Regions from separate parts of the Homo sapiens genome. Here all the other regions are linked to region 2. The links come from fine-mapping of genetic effects on gene expression. A gene starts in region 2. Each other region holds a variant in brackets. All regions are shown on one strand. Distances are from middle to middle. Region 1 overlaps AP1AR (adaptor related protein complex 1 associated regulatory protein). Region 2 holds the start of AP1AR (adaptor related protein complex 1 associated regulatory protein). Region 3 has its middle 4.9 kb from the start of FAM241A.

Region 1 (8,188 bases), 33 kb after region 2:
GACTGGGACAGATAGACTGAGAAAAGGGAAGGATGAAGGGCCTGGGGAAGCCAGAGTGATTAAGCAGGATAAAATAGGAGGATTAAGAAGAGTTCCAGAATGGTATGACGGCTGAGATCAGGGTGTAATAGTGTACTGATGTTTATATTTTATGATGAGCATCTTGGGATATGGTTTGGGGTATATACCCATAGGTCAGATGGCTGAAGCAGAGCCAGATGAAGGTAAATAAAATCCACATTTCTTAAAAGGTAGCTGTAATGCTTTAAAAACTATTCTGATATTGTATCATCTTACCAGTTTATATACTAGAATAATAGCAAGTGTTAGAATGTATACTTTTTACTCTTAACAATTGAAGTTGTAGCAAATTGCTTTAACATTTTTAACAGCAAAATTTGAGAATTTCACTGGCTTTTTGAGTGTTTTATTTGGACTTAGACTCATCAGAAGTTTTTGTTTTTTCTTTTTCTCCTCCTCCTTTTTTTCTCTAGGCCTCTTACTGAGGAAGAAATTGTTGACCTAAGAGAAAGGCATTATGATTCCATTGCCGAAAAACAAAAAGATCTTGATAAGAAAATTCAAAAAGAGGTAAATTGTCTTTTATATTGCTTAAGTACATGTTATCATAAAGAGAGAATTGTCATTAAATAATATATTGTGTAGAGTCTTTGGACCTATATTTAGATATATACAGATGAATCTGTTTTAAGAGTTAAAAAAAATCATTCCAGCCTATTATAATTTCTTTTAGTTTGGCTTAATTTATCAGAAATCATATGCTGCCAAAAAATGGAGATAGTACATTCTTTTAAAAATAATTTCTTAATTCACAAAGTAGGAACTCTGGCAAGAATATGCACCTTGGTATTTAAAACCAACTTTTAGAGCAGGCTCACATCTGTAATCCCAGCACATTGGGTGGCCGAGGCAGACAGATTGCTTGAGCCCAAGAGGTTGAGACCAGCCTCAGCAACATGGCAAAACCCCGTCTCTACAAAAAATACAAAATTAGCTTGGTATGGTGGTGCATGCCTGTGGTCCCAGCTATTTGGGAGGCTGAGGTGGGAGTATTGCTTGAGCCAGAGAGGTCAAGGCTGCAGTGAGCCAAGATCATGCCACTGCACTCCAGCCTGGGCAGTAGAGTGAGACCCTGTCTCAAAAAGGAAACAACAACAAAAGCAAATTTTTAAAAAATTACCCTGTTTCACAATAAGTGGTTTTTTGAAGAGTTTTTATCTTGGTGTATTTGTTCTCAGAGAACCAAGTACTTATAATCATAAGTGTTAAAGTTATTTAATGTGTTTATTGAAATGGCCTATAATTATGGTTTTGCACCCACTAAACTAAATGGAATTATTCATATTCTGCTGCACATTTAAAATTTTTCTGTTTAAGACCGGGCTTGGTGGTCATAGTTCCAGCACTTTGGGAGACCTGTAGTTCCAGCACTTTGGGAGACTGAGGTGGACAGATCACTTAAGCCCAGGAATTTGAGACCAGCCTGGGCAACATGGTGAAAACCCATCTCTAAAAAAAAATACAAAAATTAGCCGGGTATGGTAGCATGCACCTATAGTCCCAGCTACTAAGGAGGCTGAGGTGGGAAGATTTTGAGCCCAGGATCCTCAAGACTATGGGAGGTCGAAGGGGAGCCACTAGACTCCAGCCTGGGTGACAGAGCAAGACCCTGTCTCAAAAAAAAAAAATAAATGCACACACACATATACATACATACATATACATATATTTGTCTGTTTAATGTGGGTATGGTGGCTAATGCCTATAGTCCCAGCACTTTGGAGGCCAAGACAGGCAGATTGCTCAAGTCCAGGAGTTAAGAACCAGCCTGGGCAACTTGGCAAGACCTCATCTCTGCAAGAAATACAAAAATTCACCCGGGGTGGTGGCGCACGCCTGTAGTCCCAGCTACTCTGGAGGCTGAGGTGGGAGAATGGTTTGAGCCCAGGAGGTCAAGGCTGCAGTGTTGGTGCCATGGTACTGCAGGCTGGGTGACAGAATAACACCCTGTCTCAAAAAGAAAAGTATGTTTAGGACCAATTAGTGATTTCAAAAGCATTAACGTAAGCTATACAGTAGCTGTTAATATTAGTCTAAAGAAAAAAATTTGTGTTGAAATTTGATTTTCAAGTTAACTTTAACATACAATAGATATTACTAAAGCAGCTTATGTGCTCTTATGAATAGCAAGAACTTACATTTGAAAGTAATTTTTTAATAGTTTGATAGTAATGAAATTAAGGAGACATGTGCATTGATGTTAATTAGATGGCAAGACATGAATTTTGTGAAAGCTGAGTTCACTTTGGTCACAGTGACGTAATTGATCTTAAAGATACTGGATTTATGAGGGCCAAAACCGGCAAACTAGTGAGGGTGATAGGTGTTGGAATGATTGTTTAAAATGAAGATCACTGCAGATTCTAAAGAAACACTTCTATATTTATACAGAATAGATGCTACTGCTTCATAACTCAGTTTCTAAGGAATTCCGTAATGTGTTTTATATCCTTTGGGTTATTTTGTAAAAGAAAAAATTTAAACAATTGCAAACATTTCAATTCTGTTATGCTTTGTAGAGATCAATTATTTTTTAATAATTTATTTTTTGTTTTATAAATAGAAGCATTTTATTTTTAGAGCAGTTAGACAGGTTCTGATTTTTGTTAATCCTTATCGTTTTGTTCATGTACAGTTAGCCTTACAAGAAGAGAAGTTAAGACTAGAAGAAGAAGCTTTATACGCTGCACAGCGTGAAGCAGCCAGGGCAGCAAAGCAGCGAAAGCTCTTGGAGGTGAGGGGAAAAGACCCCAGCATATATTAGGGTTGCTTTTCTCCTTATTTTCTCTGACAAATCTTAGTTGGGACTCTTTTTTTCCTATTCTCAAGGACTTCTTGTTTAACAACGAATGTGTTTACCCATATATTCTTAAGAATTTTCAAGGCAAATTAGTCAGTCATTAACAGCTAGAAATAACATCAGATTACATGCTTGATACTCAATGCTATTTAGCTTTAGATTAGCAAATGCTGATTCCTGTTTATCCTAAAGATAAATTTTAGTGCTATAAAATTCAGTATTCTTTTGGAAAAATTAAATGTACTCTTAGAGGGAAAGCGTTGCAAAACTAGCCTTTAAATATAATTGGCAAAGCATTTTGTTTTGTGAGGGTTTTTTTTTTTTTAACAGTTTTTTAAATTGCTAGAATTTCTTTTTTTCCTGGAACTGGATAAACTGTGCTATTTTCCCCATAAAATTATTACTTGCTTCTCATCTTTATTCTTGTGTCCTTGGGAGATTGGGAGTTTGGGTCTTGAGAAATCGTTGGAATATTATCAGAGAAGGCAGCAGATTTACCGTATCTTACCATGCTGCATTACCATAATGCCTGGCAGCTGTAAGTAACAGGCATTTATGGAACCCTAACTGTCAGGAGCAGCAATGTTTTACCTTATTTAATCCTCACAACAATCTTATGAGATAGTGTTTTTAATCCCTGTTTTACAAATGAGAAAACTGAGAGTAGGATATGTTTTGTAACTTGCTTGAGATCCTACAGTTAATAAGGGCCAGAGCCAAAGTTCAAGCACAACAGTGCTTAGCTGGTATCCTTAATATCTTCCTCCATATTTTGCCTGTTTGGATTCACCTCTGTAGTGTTAACTGAAGTAGTATAAAGATCATGTCACATTGTAAAACTTAGAGAAACTGAAATATCATGTCTATCATATTGTTACATGATTTCTATGTGAACTGTGTCCTTCTCCCCCCAACTTTCCTTCATTTTTTTCCCTCTCTCTCTCTGCTGTTTTAGCAGATTATATGAAGGAATATATTTTCTTTTTAAGTCAGTTCTAAATAATGAACAAGTTTTTAACTTTTACCTTCTACTAAGAAAAGTATTTTTCTGGTTATCATATAGACACTTTTTACTGTAATAGATTATCTACTGCTTCCCTTTTAAAGACAAAGCATTCCATATGCAGCATCCATATGGGTGATTTCCAGGATTCTCTGAGTTTTTCCTACCCTGGTTTAAATATTTGATGTAGGAACACATTACAGTCTATACAGCACATACTGACACACAGACATACACTGACACCCACCAAGTCATTTGATTTTCATGGGAACCCTGAGTTTGCTAGAGCAGTAATATAGCTATCTGTAATTTATAGGTGAAGGAACAGTAGGTAAAGGCCATGCCAGGGATATATAGCTAATAGCTATCAGAGCCACAACTCCCAACAGTTCTTCTAAATCTTAGCCAATTGCTTTTATTATTTCTGAGTCAACTCAGCCAGATCTTATAAATCTGTTGTTGTATTGCTACTTATTTCACCCAGAATGGAACTTCATGTATTGTTTTAACTATTCCTTTCCTGCTCCTCATTTTTCCAGTTGGTTGGAAGTTCTTGGGTATACTAAGAATGTTAAGGATATCAATACATATCTGTTAAAAAAAAGTTATTTTTTAATAACACTATGAATATTCTGGCCACTTCTGGATTACACATAGATAAATTCAGAAAAATTCTTCCCATAAATAAGGGGATATAGAATTGAATAGTGATGGATTTAAGGAAAAATATATCAACAAAATAACTTTTTTTTTTAGAAACTAGAAAAAAATACTTTTTGGTGTTGCATGAGTGGTTTTAAAATATATAATTTTACAACAGAGTGATTTTTTTTATTACATTATGTTTCCAAAGCAAGAAAGGCAGAGAATTGTGCAGCAATATCAT[C/T]CTTCCAACAATGGAGAATATCAAAGGTAAATAGTGAAACATATGCCTCCTTCCCTTTGTGGTAGAACATTTTATTGCGGTGTAGAGCATCATTCACCTCAAGATGTGTATATACGCATTCATGTTTATGTGTTCCCTAAAAATTATTCCTTCTAAAAGACATTGTCTTGGAAGAAAACTGAGAACATTTAAGTTGAAACATTATTATTAATTTAAACTGACTTTATTGCATTTTTAAGAGTGGTCTCATTTCCCATATAGATGTGATACAATAGCTGAATGCCTTTGGGTGAGTTGTTTATACCCCAGTTGTTTGTGTTTTCCTTAGTCCCTCTCTTTCTTATAATAAAGTTTATGTGTGGTCATTTTTTGGAAGAGATATTTCAGTGTCACATTTCCACAAGTATCACTACTCATTCAAAGAATATTGTTCATGATTCATTATTGTAAAGTTGGACTTATGGCTAAGCTTTGGAGATTGGACTTCAGGATTAATGAAAATCTTCTTATTTTCAGTTTCATTTTAGTATTAAGAAAATTAAGAACTATTTTCATTAGGTTATTCTAATTGTACAGCAGTTATGAATTTGTATGACATAGGTCTTCAAGCCACAATGCCATCATTAGCTTATATATTTGTCATATTGCAGCTACCATGAATATATTAAAAAATTATTTCACTTTTATTACAGTTCAGGACCAGAAGATGACTTCGAATCTTGTTTGAGAAATATGAAGTCACAGTATGAAGTTTTTCGAAGTAGTAGTAAGTTTTTTAAAGTATTTTCTGTACTTTTTATGCCACAGTAAACAGATAAGTAGAGATTCTGGCTCTGTTTCTGTAGAAGAACTTTCTGTTCTTAAATTTGTAATTCCCAGATAGGTCAATTTCCTAGGTAGTCATTAATTATACAACCTCATCTTTTCTTTTTAAAAAGAAGTTGGAGCAAAGAAAAATCTCAGACTATTTCTGTAGATCCATATAGGAAGTCAAGCACTCCTTTTTCCATTTCTACTCTGATCCTAACCCTTCCCTTTCCAAAAAAAAGAAAGGAAAGGTGGGAGGAAGTAATAGAAAAGTGTACTTATTTTTTACTTATTACAGATTGACTTATAAGATTAAAATATTTCCTCAGGTTTCAAAAGCAAAAACTCTTATGCTTCCCAATACTGGAAGCATAGTATGGTAGTGGTTCCTTTTGAAAATATAGGTTGCTTTTTGTTTTATCTTTCTTGTTCATTGTTTTTTGTGCCGCTTTGTAATTGACTGTTAAAAATATTATCTAGAGTTAATCATATTTGAAAAGTTTATAATCATTTATATTTGCATGTTTGCTATGCTTAGATGGCAAAAAAAAAGAGAGAAAAGTTTCTTTATACTGTTCCTAACAGAAACTTACCAATAAAATGATTTCCAGAATTATTTCTTATGAAGCTAAAAGTAATAATAATAATATTTAGAGACAGATAATTGTTACAAAATAAAACGGCTGTTGCGGTGGAAGAGTAGATGAGAGTATTCAATTGTATTTCGTGTATATTCTAGGACTCTCATCAGATGCTACAGTTTTGACACCAAATACAGAAAGCAGTTGTGATTTAATGACCAAAACTAAATCAACTAGTGGAAATGACGACAGCACATCCTTAGATCTAGAGTGGGAAGATGAAGAAGGTATTTTATAATTCACAATTTTACCTGAAAAATTTAACGTAATCTGTGTTGATTTATGTAAATCTACCTTGGTCTTTATTTAAATGGAAATAAATTCAAGGCCTTGAAAAATCATATAAACACTTTTTAGACCATTATTGTATTGGTGATGATCTCTGTTGATAAAAATTTTTAGAAAATTGCTTAATTTTTAATGTTTCTTTAGATTTAGAAAATAAATGTCGATTTCTTTAAGGTTTTTGTAATCCAAGCCCATGACATTACTCAGTATGAAGGATTACTACCCCCTTGTGGACAGTCCAAAGCCAGAAGTTAAATATAACTTCTCTTAGAAATAAATCCACAGAAACAAATCCACCAGATACAGATCTACAAAGTTATATTAGTATCTAGCTCATATTTTTTTCTTATCTATAGAAATAACTTGTTTTACTGGGTTGAGTCTTTGTGATTTTTCAGGAGTGACAGACAACGGTGATACAGATTTAAATGTTCTTTTATGGTGGGATCTGAGCTTTAAGGTCAAAAAAGAAAATCATTAAATGTGTCTGGGAATATTACAATCTCTTTGTGAATCCTAGATTTTAATTCTGTTACCAATGTTGATTCTGTACTTACAGATTCAAATTTCTTTTCTGTCCTGTCTCCCTTCCTTCTGCCAGTAAAATGACATTATTTTTTCCTTTCAAGATTATTGACACTTTCACTTTACCAATTTCATTTTGTTCAGAATTAGATCTAGAACAGTTTCCCATAGAAATGTCTCTACTCTGTTGTGGTAGAGTCAGAAGAGCATAATACCACAGACTTTGGAGCCAGACTGAATGGATTAAAATTCTTGCTTCACCACTTTTTAGCTGTGTGACCTTACCCAAATCACTTAGCCTTTCTGTCCCGGTTACCTCAGCTATAGAATGAGAATAATGATAGTACTGTACTCCATAGAGTTGTTGGGGATTAAATCAGTTCATATCTGTGGCATATATGTCACATTAACTGGAACCTAGTAAATGCTGGAAAAGTACATGTTATCATTAGAGTGATTGTCATTCTCTGGGAAATGAAATTATGTGGGTAGGAAAAGACTTTGGCAGACATACTAACTTGGCTATATGAGACTAACAGCAGTTGAAATCCTCCATCCATTCTGTTTTATTTATGAGTCTTCAGGAATTTCATCTTATCGGATAATCGATGCATCAAAACTGCCCTTTGGTGACTGTTAATATTTATTTTTATCTGAGGCATACTTCAGGGTTAGAACCCAACAATTTCCCTTAAGAAGGCCTCCATGGGACTGGGTCTTTAAGTTAATTCACACATCAAGTCTGATAGTTAAATAAAAACTACATTGCTAAATTTGGGAGTTTTTAAATATAGCTTTATTATCTGTTCTGAGATTTTTGAAAACTCTGTTCAAATCATAGGAATGAATAGAATGCTTCCAATGAGAGAACGTTCCAAAACAGAGGAAGACATTCTACGGGCAGCACTTAAGTATAGCAACAAGAAGACTGGAAGTAATCCTACATCAGCCTCTGATGATTCCAATGGGCTGGAGTGGGAAAATGATTTTGTTAGTGCCGAAATGGATGATAATGGAAATTCCGAGTATTCTGGATTTGTAAATCCTGTATTAGAACTGTCTGATTCTGGCATAAGGCATTCTGACACAGATCAACAGACTCGATAGGGTAAAATTGTGTGACCTTGTTTATCAGTTATGACCAAATGTTAAAAACC
Region 2 (8,188 bases):
CATTTATCCTAACAACGAAGGCAAAATTTATCTCATTATCTCCATTTTATAGTAGTCATATCTAGTACTCTGTATAAATTTTGGTAATCGAAACTACGCTCAGTGAGTTAAAAGTACGACTTTGTGTCCATATTTGGAACAATGTCGTAATGGAAAACACAGAATTCTTCCCTTTGCAGGGACCACATAACCTCCACACCACACATAACCTCCACACCAAACATAATAGTAGCAAATGATCTCAAAATGACAAAAAGTGATTAGCAGTCAATAGAGAAGAAGTTCTGAGCAGAGATTCAGATATGGAACCACATAATCCAGAAGACAATTAGGGGTACACGTTGCATCCTGACGGACTTCGGAGCACCTACGAGAAAAGATCATTCCCTTCAACTTCAGAATAAAATACTTGAGAGAAGAAAATGTTGTGGGTTTTTTTTTTTTTTTTTTTTTTTTTTTTTGAGACGGAGTCTCGCTCTGTCGCCCAGGCCGGACTGCGGACCGCAGTGGCGCAATCTCGGCTCACTGCAAGCTCTGCTTCCCGGGTTCACGCCATTCTCCTGCCTCAGCCTCCCAAGTAGCTGGGACTACAGGCGCCTGCCACCGCGCCCGGCTAATTTTTTGTATTTTTAGTAGAGACGGGGTTTCACCTTGTTAGCCAGGATGGTCTCGATCTCCTGACCTCGTGATCCACCCGCCTCGGCCTCCCAAAGTGCTGGGATTACAGGCGTGAGCCACCGCGCCCGGCCGGGGTTTTTTTTAACTTGTATTTTAGGTTCAGGAATACATGTGCAGGTTCGTTATATGGATAAACTCATATCACAGGGATTTGTTGTGCAGATTATTTCGTCACCCAGGTATTAAGCCTAGTACCCAAGAGAATTTTGAAAAGGATGGGGAAGAAGGTGAGAAGTTCTGCTACCTGTAAGCAGGTGGGATGTCTCTAGCAAGCTGACAGTAATCACTGTAGATAGTCTTTCTTTTTTGAGACAAGGTCTGGCTTGTCACCCAGGCTGGAGGGCAGTGGTTAGATCTCGGCTCATTGCAGCCTTGACTTTCTGAGCTCAAGCAATTCTCCCACCTCAGCCTCCTGAGTAGCTGAGAATACAGGCACATGCCGCCACACCTATTTTTTGTAGAGACAGGCTCTTGCCATGTTGCCAAGGCTGGTCTCGAACTCCTGGACTCAAGCCATCTGCCCACCTCAGCCTCCGAAAATTCTGGGATTACAGGCGTAAGCCACTGTGCTTGGTCCCACTGTAGATAATCTAAGTGTTTGTGTATCTTACTGACAAGTTAAATATTCTGCGTAGCCAACTGTCATATAAATGAACTTTTTGAAATGATGAGGTCTTGCTATGTTCCCCAGGCTGAACGCAAACTCCTGGGCTCAAACCATCCTCCTACCTCCACCTTCTGAGTAGCTGGGACTACAGTTACGTGCCACCACACCCAGCTCTAAATGAACTCTCTAGCAATGATGAATTAAACTTATAAATCTTATCAGAATACATGTGACTATGGTCGTTACTGATTTTATACCCATGTCCAAATGTAAGAGTCGAGGAAGCAGTACTGAAGCATGGCAGAAGGCACAAGTCTGTCAGGAGGCCTGAGATTTCTTCATATTATACTTTTAATTCATTGTATGACCTTGAGCAAATCATTTAATTCCTCAAAGACTACTCTTTCTCAACCATAAAATGAAGTTTATCTGCCTCTCAAACATCCATTCCAGTTACGGGTTTTTTCCCTGCTAATTCTGTTTAACTAAAAGCAGATCATCACTTAACTGAATGTTTAAAAAGTCTTAAAACTTACCATGAAGATTCTTGATGTCAAATTTGGTGAAAAATTGCACAATGATAAATTCCAATAACCTCTAAGATTAGCTTGGTAATTTATTTAATACATTTGTAGAAAAAAAATTAAGTAGCTCCCCTGAATTTATTATAATCTACCCATATTCAAGTTATCATTACTTTCGGAGACAGCCAAATGCCTAGGCAGACAAAAAGGGGTCCCCAGAAAAATCTCCCACCTGCCCCACAAGTGTTCACATCAGATGCTTTTGTGCAGATGAGGGAACCTGCCCAGTGCCTTGTGTGAACATGCCCATATGCGCACTGGGGGAATGGGGTGGAACCAGGGCAGGGGAAGGAGGCTGGCCTCTTCAGTTCCTATGTGGTGGCTTGGGATTCAATCTGTGAGGTGCCTTTTCAGTCCCTGTGCAGTAGCCTGGGATTCAGTCTATGAGGTGGGGGCCTGATAACAGGACTCTATCTCGCTTTGGTGAGTTTTTTCTTTTTCCTTTTGCCCAATAAAATCCTGCTCTACTCACCCTTCAATGTGTCCACGTGTCTAAGTTTTCCTTGTCATGTGACAAGAACCTGGTTTTAGCTGAACTGCGGGGCAAAATTCTGCATTTCTAAATGCTTGCATTTGTGATCAAACTCTAATTGAACTGGTTATCAACCTTTTCTACTGAAGGGTCAGATTTAAACATTTTTTTCTGATTACAGAAGTATTAAATAATAATTGTCAAAATTGAGAAAATAGAGAAGAGAAATAAAGCTCCCAACATTCACAGTCTTGAAATAATTACTGTTAGCATTTTGATATTTACCATCCAGCCTTTATTTTCAAGAAACACGTGTAAGAAAGAATGTAAGAATGTATATGTTTTGTTTTAAACATCATTTGGAACATACATATAATTTTCTATCCTGATTTTTCACACATTATTCAGCAAGCATTTTTCCATATTGTTTTAAAAAATATATTTATTATGTCTATATAACAAGAATACACCAGCAAATTTAATCATCCTTCAATTTTTGAGCATTTAGTTTGTTTCTGGCTCTTGGTATTTCCAAATAATTTCTCAGAATGAGTTTCATTATCTGCAGCAGTTTAGAATAGTACCATTTCATTGTATCCTTGCAAATACTGAATATTTCTAACTGTAAAGCTTTGTTAACTTGACAAGTGAATCAATACAAATGACTAAAACATGCATTTTAATTTGCATTATTTTGCTTAGTGAAGTTTTTAAATGTCTTATTCATTTGTATTGCTTCTGAGGATCATTCATATCCTTAACTGAGAGAACAGATTTACTATAAAAAAATTATTTTTAAGTGAGATTCAGTTTTAATAACGGTTTATAGAATGTCTATAGGAAGTGCTGTCAAGTCTATAGCTGCATTTTTTTAATCAAACTTTTTATATTGAGACAATTGTGTCACATGCAGTTTTAAGAAATAATATACAGATGACCGTGTATATCTTTAATCTAGTTTCCCCCAGTGGTGACATGTTACAAAACTATTGCAATATCACAACCAGAATACTGACATTAATATAGACAAGATGCAGGATTTCCATTCCCTGACCCATGGCAATCAATTATTCTGTTGTCCACTTACATAAATTTATCAATTCTGAGATGTTACATAATGGAATTACACAGTATATAAGCATTTGAGATTGGCTTTTTCTTTAACCATAATTTCCTACAGATTCATTTCAGGGTGTGTTCATCAATACTGTGTTCCTATTTGTTACTAAATATTCCATAGGATAGATGTACCAGTTTCTGTAAACATTTATAGTTGAATTTTAATGATTATTTCATTAATACATTTGTCTAATTTCAGGGGTTGGAAGGAGAAAAGAAAATGCTTTCACTAGGAAGTCATTCGGTCATCCCAACATTCACTGAAAGCAAACCATTGGGACAAATGTTATCCTATGCTTCTGATTACAAAACAACTAAAACCCAAATAAAATAAACATTAGTAAGTAGCAGTGCTAAGATTGAAACCAGATACGTATTTAAAGAAGCAAGAAAATGAGTTCAGAGAACATTTTATCATCAATAAAAACTTTCTAAAATGTAACAATTTTTCTAGGTTTAATTAAACAGGCTAAAAACTTGATGTGTCCAGTCCATGAGAGCATCCTCCTATCCACTGGACGAGGTGTCTACTAAACCACATCTTATATCTATTGTGAGGCCAACTGTCTTGAGGCCAAACAAGACGCGAATTATATGGTAGCACTTGAGAGGGCTGCGGACACATTAGAGCAGCTTTCTCTTCCCATCTACAGCAGTTCTGGGCAGCATGCTTGGAATGGCAACGCTGACGTCCCCGAAAAACCCCAGCCCTCTTGCCAATTTCCTCTGAACCCCAACTACCCAACCCAAAATTATGTGAAGATCTGATTTTCAAACAAAACGAGGACAATAATGCACCATTATTACGTTTCCCTAAAACATTAACAGTATGGAAATTAAGACACAAACCAGAGACCGGAAAAAAATCTTGGTGCGTTCAAAGTAACCTCAATCAGTTCCCGAGTCTATTTTCCGCTTATGGTGCAGTATTAACAAAAACTAAGCACACCGTGCAGAGAAACGCCCCTTCGCACTTATGACTTCCGGCCTGGGACTCTGGCTCCTCACACGCCTTTGATACAAAGTTCGAAGGCTGAGCCTTAGCCATGCCACGCCCAGCGTGCTCCGGACGAGGATGCCCGAAACTGCAATGAGAGAGGGAAATTTCCTAGTCAGGTCAAGGTCCAACAAAACAAACGTCCGCACGCAGGAATTGAACCGTCTCGCAGGCAGAGGCGGCTGAACCAGGAGCGAGCGGAAGTGACGCACAGGCCGGTCGCCAGAGAAGGCGGGGCACCGAGGTAGCGCGCCCAATTGGGGCGCGGGAGAGGCCGGGGGTGTGGCAGCGTTGGCGGCGAGCAGGGGCCTGGGCGCGCTGGGGGCGGGGCCAGGGTGCTCGGCTCGCGGGGACTGGCCTCCTTCGGCAGCTGGAGGCGGTCACTCACGCTGGGCTAGGAGCTGAGGCGAGAAGGGCCATGCGGACGGCGAGGGAGTCCAGAGCCTTGAGCCCGGTGCTCCTCCCTCGCGCAGCGGTGGCTCTGCGGCCGCTGGAGTAAACACTGCCTTTGTTCCCTAGCGCCTCGTCTTTCGTCGCCCCGTGCCCTCACGCCGCCGGGCTCTGGCCGGCCCGCCCTCGGTCCTTGAACCCCATTTCGGCTCGTGCCGTGCGGATGCAGCTGCCGGGCCTGGGTTTGGGCATTGAGCGGGAGGAGGAGGAGGAGCGGCGGCGCCTGGGCGGCATGCGATGGGGAACTGCTGCTGGACGCAGTGCTTCGGACTGCTTCGCAAGGAAGCGGGGCGGCTGCAGCGAGTAGGCGGCGGCGGAGGGTAAGCCCGCTGGGGGAGGGGCCCGGCCCCCGTGGCTCCTCCTCTTCGGCCCCCGGCGGGGAATCCCTTTCACCGTCCCCCGGCGGCTGGAGGTGGCGGTCGAGAGCCCTGCTACACTCACTGCTTAGCAGACGTCAGACTGGTGGTCGTCTTGGAGGCCCAGTCTGGGGTCCGGTCTTGGGGCCTCCTCGGAAAGAGGTAGAAGAGGGGGCGGGGTGTCCCTCCTGCCAGGGCGCCCTGTCACGCGGGGAAGGAGTCACGGGAGACATCATCTCCAGGAAACAAGGGGTAGCTTCGCGCTAATGGGCTGTAGGACCGGCTCCACGGCAACCTGGACACACCCTGCGCTGAGCTTAGGTTTAACGCCAAAGCTAGTATCCCTGTATCTGACCCTCTCTTTAGCCCTGGCAGAGCAGGTGGGATCTGGCTCCGGAGTTAATGCCTCAGATTGATTTTAAGTAGAAGTCATTTGGATGCTGGAGTAAAATAAGGTTCCAGATACTGATGAACTCTGGTAGCTACAAAGACTTGCTGAATTGCAGAGTTCCCAATGGGCATTCAGATTCTTGGTGCTCATAACTACAGGGACAATGTGTAATTTTTTCGTATTAAGTTTTTGAAATTTCGAGAGGAATTCCTTGCCCTGATTGCTACTCAAACGTCCTGTAACATTAGGTAAATTGCAGTCCTTCTGAACTTCACTTCTCTTGAGTAAACCTGGGATATTGCTTAGGTTTTGTATATGCACCATCCACAGAATAGTAATTTCATAATTCCGTTTTTGTGTTTTTTTATTTCATATATATTGAAAAAATTAGAGCAAATTCCTTTGGGGTTGGCTTTGTTGTTATTAAATGTCCCTCCGGAATTCAAACCTAGAATTGAAAATCTGAACCAAGCCAGTTTGTGTAAGGACTAAGACTGTTTTGCACTTTCTGAAACAGATTGCTAATTTTTCATAATCTGTTCCATTTAACTAACATTATTGGGTAATAAGATGTTCAACATAAATAAATTGCAGTAAATGATCATAATTTGAATCTTTGGTAATGGAGATCTTATAAAATATAGGATTCTCATTCATTAATTAGGCATTGTGTCACCTCTCTGATACAAAATAGCTAAGGTTTTACACTAAGTATCCCTAGAATGGAAGGGCAAGGATTTGCAGTTTGTGCCTAGTGTAATATTTCGATTTCCCTAATTTATGAGTTATTACTCTTGAGTGGGACATGACAGTTGTTTTATCTTGTCATCCAGGATCATCTGGTTTAAGTATTTATAATTTTTGTGTGTGAATGAAACTTACAAGGTCAAGCTGCTTAAGTAGGCTTGCCCAATAACTAGATGCCACACAATCTTTGGCTTTTACTATTATTTGTAGTTGTGTTACAGGGCGTTAAATTCTAACTCCAAGAAAGTTGGTTGGTGAGGGAGCAGTACTTACATTCTAAATGGATAAGCAAAAAACTTTATATTTGACTTTGGACTACATGATGTGTCTGTGGACTTTAGTTTTGTTTTTTTCATGGGGTCTCCGTAGAGTACGGCATTAAAATTGTAGGTTCTACTCCCTCAGCTCGTGAGCTTGGCAGCACAGGGAGGTGGCAGGAGGAAATCCATGAATCAGCGTGAGTGTTAATTGTCTGTAGATATGCCATAAAAACATAAGCAGGTGGAGTATTTCTTTCTTTTTTTTTGAGACGGAGTCTCGCTCTGTCGCCCAGGCTGGAGTGCAGTGGCGCGCGATCTCGGCTCACTGCAACCTTCGCCTCCCGGGTTCACGCCATTCTCCTGCCTCAGCCTCCTGAGTAGCTGGGACTGCAGGCGCCCGCCACCATGCCCGGCTAATTTTTTTGTATTTTTAGTAGAGACCGGGTTTCACCCTGTTAGCCAGAATGGTCTTGATCTCCTGACCTCATGATTCGCCAGCCTTGGCCTCCCAAAGTGCTGGGATTACAGGCATGAGCCACCGCGCCCGGCCAGCAGGTTGAGTATTTCTTATCTGAAATACTTGCTTTGGAGTTCAGATTTTTATTCAGATTTTGGAATATATGCATTATATACTGGTGTAGTATCTGAAAATCTGAAATCCAGAATTCTCCAATGAACATTTTCTTTGAGTAACATGTTGGCACTCAAAAAGTTTCAGATTTTGGAACATTTCAGATTTTGGGTTTTGGGGTTAGGTATACTCAACTTGTGGTTGGATTTTTACTGTTTGTGGGCAAAGCTCTTTGAACAAGTCCTGTGGAGGCAGTGAGAGTTTATAGGTTGTGGACACTGTCATCTAAAATTATATAATGGTGATATTGATCCTATTACTTTAAGTCTATAAACAGGATTTGACGGTTCCCTTACTTGAATTTTCTGATTAACTTATTGTTTAACATCAATTTTAATACTGTTTTAGCAGCTTCCAGTAAGCATGTAGAGACAGATGGATATAGTTACTTGTGCAATAAGGTTAAACTCTTATTTTAGTTTTTTTTTTTTTTTATCAGCTGTTTTGATTTTCTTTCAAGTATAGGTCTGGATAGTTAGTAGTTCTTCTAAAGGTGAAAAAGTTGAGGAGTAATCACAAAAACTTGATTTGATCCTATATGTCTTTGTAGTGACCACAAAAGAAGAGGGTGTCCTCAACTTTTTTAGCTTGATTTAAGCTAGACTTCACAGGGAAGCCTTATGATCTAAGGCCTGGTTTCTGAGTCTTGCAGATTGACATACCCCTGAGAAATCTGAAAATCAGATCACTCGTTTTTTACTATTTTAATCTCAAAACCAGAATTACCACTTTTTCCAGTTTATAAAATACTAGGGAATTCTAGTATTGTATATTCTAGGATATCTGTTTCACCAGTCAAAATATCAATATCAGTGTTGACGTATGTTGGAAACCCTACTACTAATGAAGTCATTTGGTGATTAAAGCAGAGAGAATTAAATATCTTTAAGGAATAA
Region 3 (8,188 bases), 90 kb before region 2:
CCTCAAGCCCTTTTATAAGAGCCTAATCTCATCCACAAGAGCTCTGCCCTCATGACTTAATCACTTCCTAAAGGCCCTACCTCTTAACACTGTCACATTGGCCAAAAGTTTCACGAATTTTAGAGGACACATTCAGGCCACAGCAACATGACACTGTGCCATCACTCATATCTCCTATTCCATAGCAGTCATTCTTTCCCAGTAAATTTTCACAAGCCTTCTTGTGAAAATACAGTGTGCCACGCAGTTGCTACCAGTAACTGGAACGTGAGATGAAACCCATCTGCCTCTCCGTATCTAGGCTTACATCTGCTAGTACCGTATTGGCAGATACTATTTGGGGTCTGATTTCTTGCCCAGCTGGAGATACATACAGAATTCTTTAATTTCTGTTTCAGCTTTTTGCATTCCCTTTTAAGTCAACCACTAAGTTATTTACCATGTGAGGAAACCCAAGATCCAAGCTCATTTGCAGAGCATAGATAACAGATTTCCCATATGCAATGAAAAAGCTAAGCATACCTCATGCTATCAGCTCCATTCACGTAATATTAATGCTAACTAATATGTTTTGAGTATAAACTTAGATGCCATAATACCCGTTATTTTGCAAATAAAAAAACTGAGGATTAGAAAGAGCCAGGATTGGAATCTAGCGGCAGTCAAGGCTCAAGTTTTAGAATTGTTAACTGCTAGAGTGTTCCACCTTACTTCTCCAGATCCTGGAGAAGTGCAGCATTCCTTCCAGAATTTCTTGATTCTCTTCATATATACCATTTTTAAAAACTCATTGAAGGTCAGGTGTGGGGGCTCACGCCTAAAATTTCAGCACTTTGGGAGGCTAAGGCAGGCAGATAGCTTGAGCTCAAGAGTTGGAGACCAGCCTGGACGACATAGTGAGACTCCATCTCCATCGAAAGTACAAACAATTAGCTGGGCATGGTGGCACCTGCCTGTAGTCCCAAGTACTCAAGAAGCTGAGGCATGAGAATTGCTTGAGCCTGGGAGGCAGAGGTTGCAGTGAGCTGAGATTGCACTGCTGCACTCCAGCCTGAGTGACAGAGTGAGACCCTATTTCAACTTAAAAACAACTCAGTGAGAGTAATAGGCTTAGCCAGGAAAACACATACAGGACAGCAAATTTAGAAAAAATATTAACAACTGGACATTCCAGGTGAACACCCTGTGAATGTTCACTGTACTATTGCAACCTTTCTTAAGGTGTGAATTTTTTCAGAATAAAAATGTGGAGGCAAAAATGTAATAGACCTAATTTTCACTGAGTAAAGAGGGTTTTTCTCATTGCAGAGTGTTAAAATAATAGATACCTTGGAATTATAATAGGACAACTTATATGTATATCAAAACATTTTAAAGATCTTTGGGGAGGTGTTGGCAAAAATAACCTTAGATAATTTAATTATGATGATTAAGACACAGCATAAGAAAAATTCCTTCTATCCTTTCACTTTTGAGAATTAGTATCTCCAATCAGAACAACTTGACTAATTGGAATAAATGAAAAGAACAGCAGCCAAGGCACTCAGGTTAGATCTAGAAGAAAAGTCAGATAGAAATCATAGATTTTTTTTTCTTTTCTTTCTTTTTTTTTTTTTTTTTTTTTGAGATGGAGTCTTGCTCTGTCGCCCAGCCTGGAGTGCCACGGTGCGATCTCCGCTCACTGCAAGCTCCGCCTCCCGGGTTCACGCCATTCTCCTGCCTCAGCCTCCCGAGTAGCTGGGACTACAGGCGTGCATCACCACGCCCGGCTAATTTTTTTGCATTTTTAGTAGAGACAGGGTTTCACTGTGCTAGCCAGGATGGTCTCGATCTCCTGACCTCATGATCTGCCCGCCTCGGCCTCCCAAAGTGCTGAGATTACAGGCGTGAGCCACCGCCCCAGGCTGAAATCATAGAATTTTAAAGGAGAGAGAGATTTTTCAAATTGTCTGGTTCAGCCTGCTCATTTTACTCACTATGAAATTCAATAGCAGAAATTTTAAATAAACTGCACAAATTTCTGCAGCCTGAGAGTGGCAGAACTAGCCATTTCTCCTGTATCCCAGTTTAGAGTTTATATCATTCTGATTCCTTTAGTAAGTGATGAAGAGCTAACTCAACATGGCTTATGGAAAAAAATTGGGGACAACATTATGGTGATAGATTTATGGGTTAACATAACTGAGAAAAGCATACAGGTGTAGCTCTAATATTTGGAGTAGCTAGCTAAAAATATTCATCTCTCAATCATGTATTCTGCTGGGCTGACTTCATTCTTATGCCCTATATGGTTGTCCTCCTGCAGTTCCAAGCTCATACCATCACAGGCCAATCCTGTAGACAATACTTTTCTTATAATACAAACAAAAGTCCCCAAATTGAGTTTTATTGGCCCTGATTGGCCTGACTTGTGCCTATTCTTGAACCAATCACAGTGGCCATGGGAGGTGGGGAGAGTAAAATGAATTTAATTTACTTAGTAAAAGCCATATTCTCCATTCCAATCACAGACTGGGAGTGGGAGACTGGTCAATAAGAAAAGCTGGGGTATTGTTAACAAAGGAGTAGGTACACCTTACTGCTCATCTGTGAATAATAAATGTGCTTTGCCTAAAAGAAAAAAGTAGGTACAGATAACAATAGCAAAACCCAACATTTATCCATAAATAACAGTAAAAAGAATAAAGTATAAGAGAAGACAAAATCACTTTTAAAAAAAGTTTGAGGCCAGGCATGGTGGCTCACGCCTGTAATCCCAGCACTTTGGGAGGCTGAGGCAGGCGGATCACGAGGTCAGGAGTTCAATACCAGCCTGGCCAACACAGTGAAACCCCATCTCGACTAAAAATACAAAAATTAGCTGGGCGTGGTGGTGGGCGCCTGTAGTCTCAGCTACTCGGGAGGCTGAGGCAGGAGAATCGCTTGAACTAGGGAGGCGGAGGTTGCAGTGAGCCGAGATGGTACCACTGCACTCTAGCCTGAGCAACACAACTAGACTCTGTCTCTAAAAAATAAAAAATAAAAAAATAAAAAATTGAAAGGACTGTCACCAAAAATAATAATAATAATAATTAATTCGTTCTTTTGTACTTCAGAAATGAATTAGGACCAAGAGGCAGAGGAGATAAGGATATAGATTCAAGTCAGGAGATGCAATAAACTTTCTAACAATTAGTATTAGTTATTTGGTAATTGAATAGGCAGTATCATGAAGTAATGAGTTTCCCATAGTTGGAGGCCTTCAAGCAGAAGAAGGGTGACCATCTACCAGAAATGTTATAGAAGGGATCCTACATTGGGTGATAGCTTGCTATAAACTGCCTCTGAGATTCCTTCCAACTCTAAGATTCTAAATTATTGAGAACAACATGAATAAAAGATCCAAACTCATTCAAGAACTAAATAATTCAACAAAAGGTAATATAACTTTCATCTATGAAGTTGAATCAACCAGACTTTGGGTGCCAGCAATCCCATTTTACAAGAAAAACAGATATAGATCTTTTTAAATGGTTTATTTTTAAATTACAACATTAAAATTAATTTTACAAGGAAACACATACCCCAGAGTCACATTGTCCAAAAAGCCATTTTAAAATTTTATCTTCCAAATTTGATCTTTTTGTTCACATAATTTCACCTCTGTGAGACTTATTTCCTAAGCTGAGAAGCTAAGTCCTGAATTACTCTTTTTACCTGCCTAGCTCCTGGGGTACAGGATAACTGAGTGACTCTGTTACTACCAATCTTCACTTTTTCACTTAACATTATATTTAAATGTTTATCACATTGATATAAAATCTTTACCATTTTAAGGCTTTACATATTTGTGTTGGTATACCACAGTTTACTTAGGTGTTTTCTTACAGGAAGACATTTAGGCTACTTTCAGCTTTTCACTATAATTCTGCCTTGAACATCTTTATGCAAACAAC[T/C]TTTTCCCCTTTTTGTTTTTTAATTTTTACTTTTATTTTAAATAATAATTGTACACATTTACAAGGTTCAATGTGATGTTTCGATATATGTGTACATTGTGGAAAGATTATATCTAGATAATAAAGTTACCCATCAGCTCACATATCTTTTTTTTATGGTAAGAACATTTAAAATCTACCCTTTTAGCAGTTTTGAAATATGCATTATTATTAACTATGGTCACTATGCTGTGCAATAGATCTCAAAAAGTTACTCTTCCTGTCTAACTGAAACTTTGTACCCTTGGGACAACATCTCTCTGTCCCCCACCCCACCCCTTTTTTAATTCTTTCCCAGGACTGGAGTTAGTAGGCCAAAGGGTACGGATATCTCTGTGGTTCTGAGTATGTACTGCCAAAAGAATGCTATCAGTTTTCAGAGCTACTAGCAATGCCTGAGTTTAACCATTTCTCTAAAATATTGCTCACATTAGGTTTTATTCGACATTTTAAAAATTACTAACAGATATTAAATAGTGCTTAATTATTGTCTATATTTCCACTTTTTTCTCTAGCAATAAGTTTAAATAGCCTTCTCAATACTTTTTTTTTTTAATAAAACAACTGTTAATCTATCTTCCTACTGTAAGGAGAGAACTCAGCAGTGCATCTGAATGCAACAAAATCACACTAGAGAACGTTAATAGAGCAGAGAGGATAAAAATTAATTCCAACCCAGGCATAGTGGCTCACACCTGTAATCCCAGCACTTTGGGAGGCTGAGGCGGGCGGATCACCTGAGGTCAGGAGTTTGAGACCAGCGTGGCCAGCATGGTGAAACCCCGTCTCTACTAAAAACACAAAAATTAGCTGGTGTGGTGGCACACGCCTGTAATCCCAGCTACTCGGGGGTCTGAGGCAGGAGAATCGGTTGAACCCAGGAGGTGGAGTTTGCAGTGATCCGAGATTACACTACTGCACTCCAGCCTGAGTGGCAGAGCAAGACTCTGTCTCAAAAAATAAAACAAAAATTAATTCCAACAGAAAGAGCAAATTTCTCCTTCTCCCAATCAGAATGGACTCTCTGGGAAGGCAAGAGAGCATTAATAGAGCGTTGTTTAAGCTGATACAGCTTCCTTAAACTGAAAGAACACTAAAGGAAGTGAGGCCTCTCCAAGTTTCCTTTCCTTGAAATTTACATCAATTGTGCAAGAACCATAGTTTCCTGGAATTTTGGTTCAGATTCCAAACATCTCAAAAATAATTCCCTGTGCCCTGCTAAATAGAAAGGAAGCAGATGAAAATCATATGAGAAAAATTAAAGCATATAGGAAGCTTAGAATAACATTATAGTGTGTCAAAAATCAAACCAACAAATGTAATTTGGGGTAGTTTCCACAAATAACTGCATTTGTTTTTCTAAGATTGTATTACCAATTGAGTCCAGAACTCTCTGATTTGCTCGTTTCTCCCTCTGGAAAGATGCACAAATGAAATAAGAATAGAGGAACATTAAAAATAATAAAGGCATGAAAGTGAAGGATTAAAAGTCCTTGTTCCCATAGCAACTGCACCAGCCACATTTGCACTAGACAGGCCATTCCTTAGACGTGCATCTGTTTCTTGCACTTATTTATTTCTGGGAAAGCACAAAACACACTAATAAAATCACAACAAAACTCCATATGATTTGACTTTGGGAGGCCAAGGTAGGCGGATCACCTGAGCGCAGGAGTTCGAGACCAGCCTGGCTAACATGGCAAAATCCCATCTTTACAAAGATACAAAAATTAGCCTGGCATGGTGGCACACACCTGCAGTCCCAGCTACTTAGAGAGCTGAGGCAGGGCAGGAGGATCGCCTGAGCCTGGGAGGTGGAGGTTGCAGTAAGCTGTGATCATGCTACTGCACTGCAGCCTGGGTGGAAGAGCGACACTCTGCCAAAACACACACACACACACACACACACACAAACAAAAAAAAAAACCACTACATATGATTTGAGACCAACATGTTATAGTTGCCTAGGTAATAACAATCTTATATTTCCCATGGGAAACTGGCAGTGCTAGCTTTATGTGTATATTTTTCACATTGTGCAGCAGAGTGAAAACAGCCCTCTCCTCCCATAAGATTAGGCTGTAATCTGTTTAATGTCTTTTGTGTAAAATGCTAGATTTATTTAAAGAGGTGGTTCTCCAGATCTCCAGGAAAAATCAGACTCTATGAACAAAAGAATAACAGCTTAAAGAAAAACTCACTCACTAAATTAAAGGTAAATGATATTAAGAAAAAAAAAAAAGGTTCTGCCTTCAGTCCTAGGTGGAGATCCAAGGATTCTGGCTACTCTTCGGTAAAAGTTCTTGGTTTCTGCCAAGAAAATAACACAAGAATTGGATTAAAATGAAGCTTCATGAGAATAGGGACCTAGACCTGGGCCAAACGCCTAGTAGTGTTCAATAAGAGAATAGGGACCTAGACCTGGGCCTAAAGCCTAGTAGCGTTCAATAAATACCTACTAAAAAACTGAATTAATACACTTCTCAAAGACTCAAGAAGCCGGAATCTACAAAAGACCAGACAGTATACTCTAAAGGAATTTTGTAAGACTTGTCCCCTAAGCTGAACAAAGCTAACCTCTGTATTGTACCTGCCCAGCTATATAAATACTCTGTGCCTTCTGAGTCCTCTTATATATAAGGAATTTCTGCTCACTGTAGCCTGATTGAAGAGTGCATAGTTGTTTGGCTTATCAAGTTGCCAATCAAACGCTATGAGGGAGAACTTCAAAATGTGCCTTAGTTCATGGGGTTGGCAGTAAAGAGCTGATGTTCTCTGGGTTGCTGTATATAATTCCAAAGTTTTATCCAAAAAAGTTGATTTTTATTTTTTTATTTTTTTGAGACGGAGTCTTGCTCTGTCACCAGGCTGGAGTGTAGTGGCGTGATCTTGGCTCACTGCAACCTCTGCCTCCCGGGTTCAACTGATTCTCCTGCCTCAGCCTCCCTAGTAGCTGGGACTACAGGCATGTGCCACCACACCCAGCTAGTTTTTGTATTTGTAGTAGAGATGGGGTTTCACCATGTTGGCCAGGATGGTCTCCATCTCTTGACCTTGTGATTCGCCTGCCTCGGCCTCCCAAAGTGCTGGGATTACAGGCGTGAGCCACCACGCCCAGCCAAAAAAAAAAAAAGTTGGTTTTTATAAGAAACACTACTAATAGCCAAACCAAAATTCCAAGAATGAAAATGTTGCCTTCAGGGGAAAAAAAATGAGGCCCATCAGAAAGGCTACTGGGTTCCCATGGTGATATTTGTTTCTGATTGTATGTATATAATATTAAATACTCTTTTCTGGAGTTTTAAAGACTTTTAAGAAAGGGAATGAACCAGATTCATTTTCTTTCTAATTTTTGATATCCAACGGCATATTTTCTGGCCCCTAGAGAGATTGTTTGTGGAGGAGAGACAATCAGAGAGGGCATGTGTGAGAAACCATGTGTGAGAGATGGTGTGTGCGCGAGGTTGTATATGTGTGAGAGAGACTGTATGTATGTGAAATCATGTGTGTATGAGAGAGATTGTGTGTATGAGAGATTGTGGGTGTGTGAGAAAGACTGAGAATCTCCTGACTACAAAAAACAGGAAACTTCTTTAAAATAAGCCTATGAGATTCTGCCTATTTTAATTCCTTCTCTGGGCCTGAAAACATTTTAATAGAAGATCCCAAATAACTCTTACTCTTCTCCATGTGTACACATGTTTACTTTCCATATTTACTTTTCTGTATTTTACCTGTACAATAACCCATCGTTTTCCCAATGTACAGATAAGGCATACACAGAAAAAAAAGTGATATTTTATTTAAACACCCTTCCATTTTCCTTGAATAAAATGGATGGAGTAGTACAAAAAATAATTATCAATTGGATATATTCCCCTCACCACCCACTGAGAAAGACATATTCTTACCCAGTTACAGAAAGATACATCATTTGATACACCATCAAACGACCCAAGGCTCCAACAAACAACACACACTAGGAAGCACTCAACAGAAAGGGACAAATACACAGACCTTCAGTGAGACACTAGGAAAGGAGGCTAAAGGAACAAGAGGGACAGTGAAATGTGTCTTCCTTGAAAAGGACGGGCAGATACTCAGGCAAGAACAGGGGTACTCTGCTGGAGAGTGTAACTGGGTGCATGTGTGTGTTTCTCTCTCACATACAAACCCACACACACTAATCTCTTATACAAATGCGCTCTCTCTTA

Evidence for each region. PIP is the estimated chance that this variant, and not a neighbour inherited with it, causes the effect.
Region 1: its variant is fine-mapped to the expression of AP1AR in whole blood (TOPMed, PIP above 0.99).
Region 3: its variant is fine-mapped to the expression of AP1AR in whole blood (INTERVAL, PIP 0.95).

The regions. Positions count from the first base shown.
Region 1 is chr4:112,260,272-112,268,459 of GRCh38, forward strand. AP1AR (adaptor related protein complex 1 associated regulatory protein) reads left to right here. Exons shown (of 10, transcript NM_018569.6): 5 at 495-591; 6 at 2,717-2,815; 7 at 4,738-4,796; 8 at 5,463-5,536; 9 at 6,317-6,445; 10 at 7,873-8,188. The coding sequence ends at 8,138. Among named protein-coding and RNA genes, the nearest start is that of TIFA, 22 kb to the right of the region's middle. The variant C/T (reference allele first, on the strand shown) is at 4,771.
Region 2 is chr4:112,226,948-112,235,135 of GRCh38, forward strand. It overlaps AP1AR (adaptor related protein complex 1 associated regulatory protein), which reads left to right and starts at 4,840. Exons shown (of 10, transcript NM_018569.6): 1 at 4,840-5,227. The coding sequence starts at 5,145. AP1AR-DT (AP1AR divergent transcript) reads right to left here and starts at 5,203. Exons shown (of 1, transcript NR_186684.1): 1 at 2,614-5,203. RefSeq lists enhancers at 4,613-5,560, 5,585-5,634 and silencers at 4,665-4,944, 5,105-5,374, 8,168-8,188.
Region 3 is chr4:112,136,463-112,144,650 of GRCh38, forward strand. No RefSeq gene overlaps it. Among named protein-coding and RNA genes, the nearest start is that of FAM241A, 4.9 kb to the right of the region's middle. The variant T/C (reference allele first, on the strand shown) is at 3,936.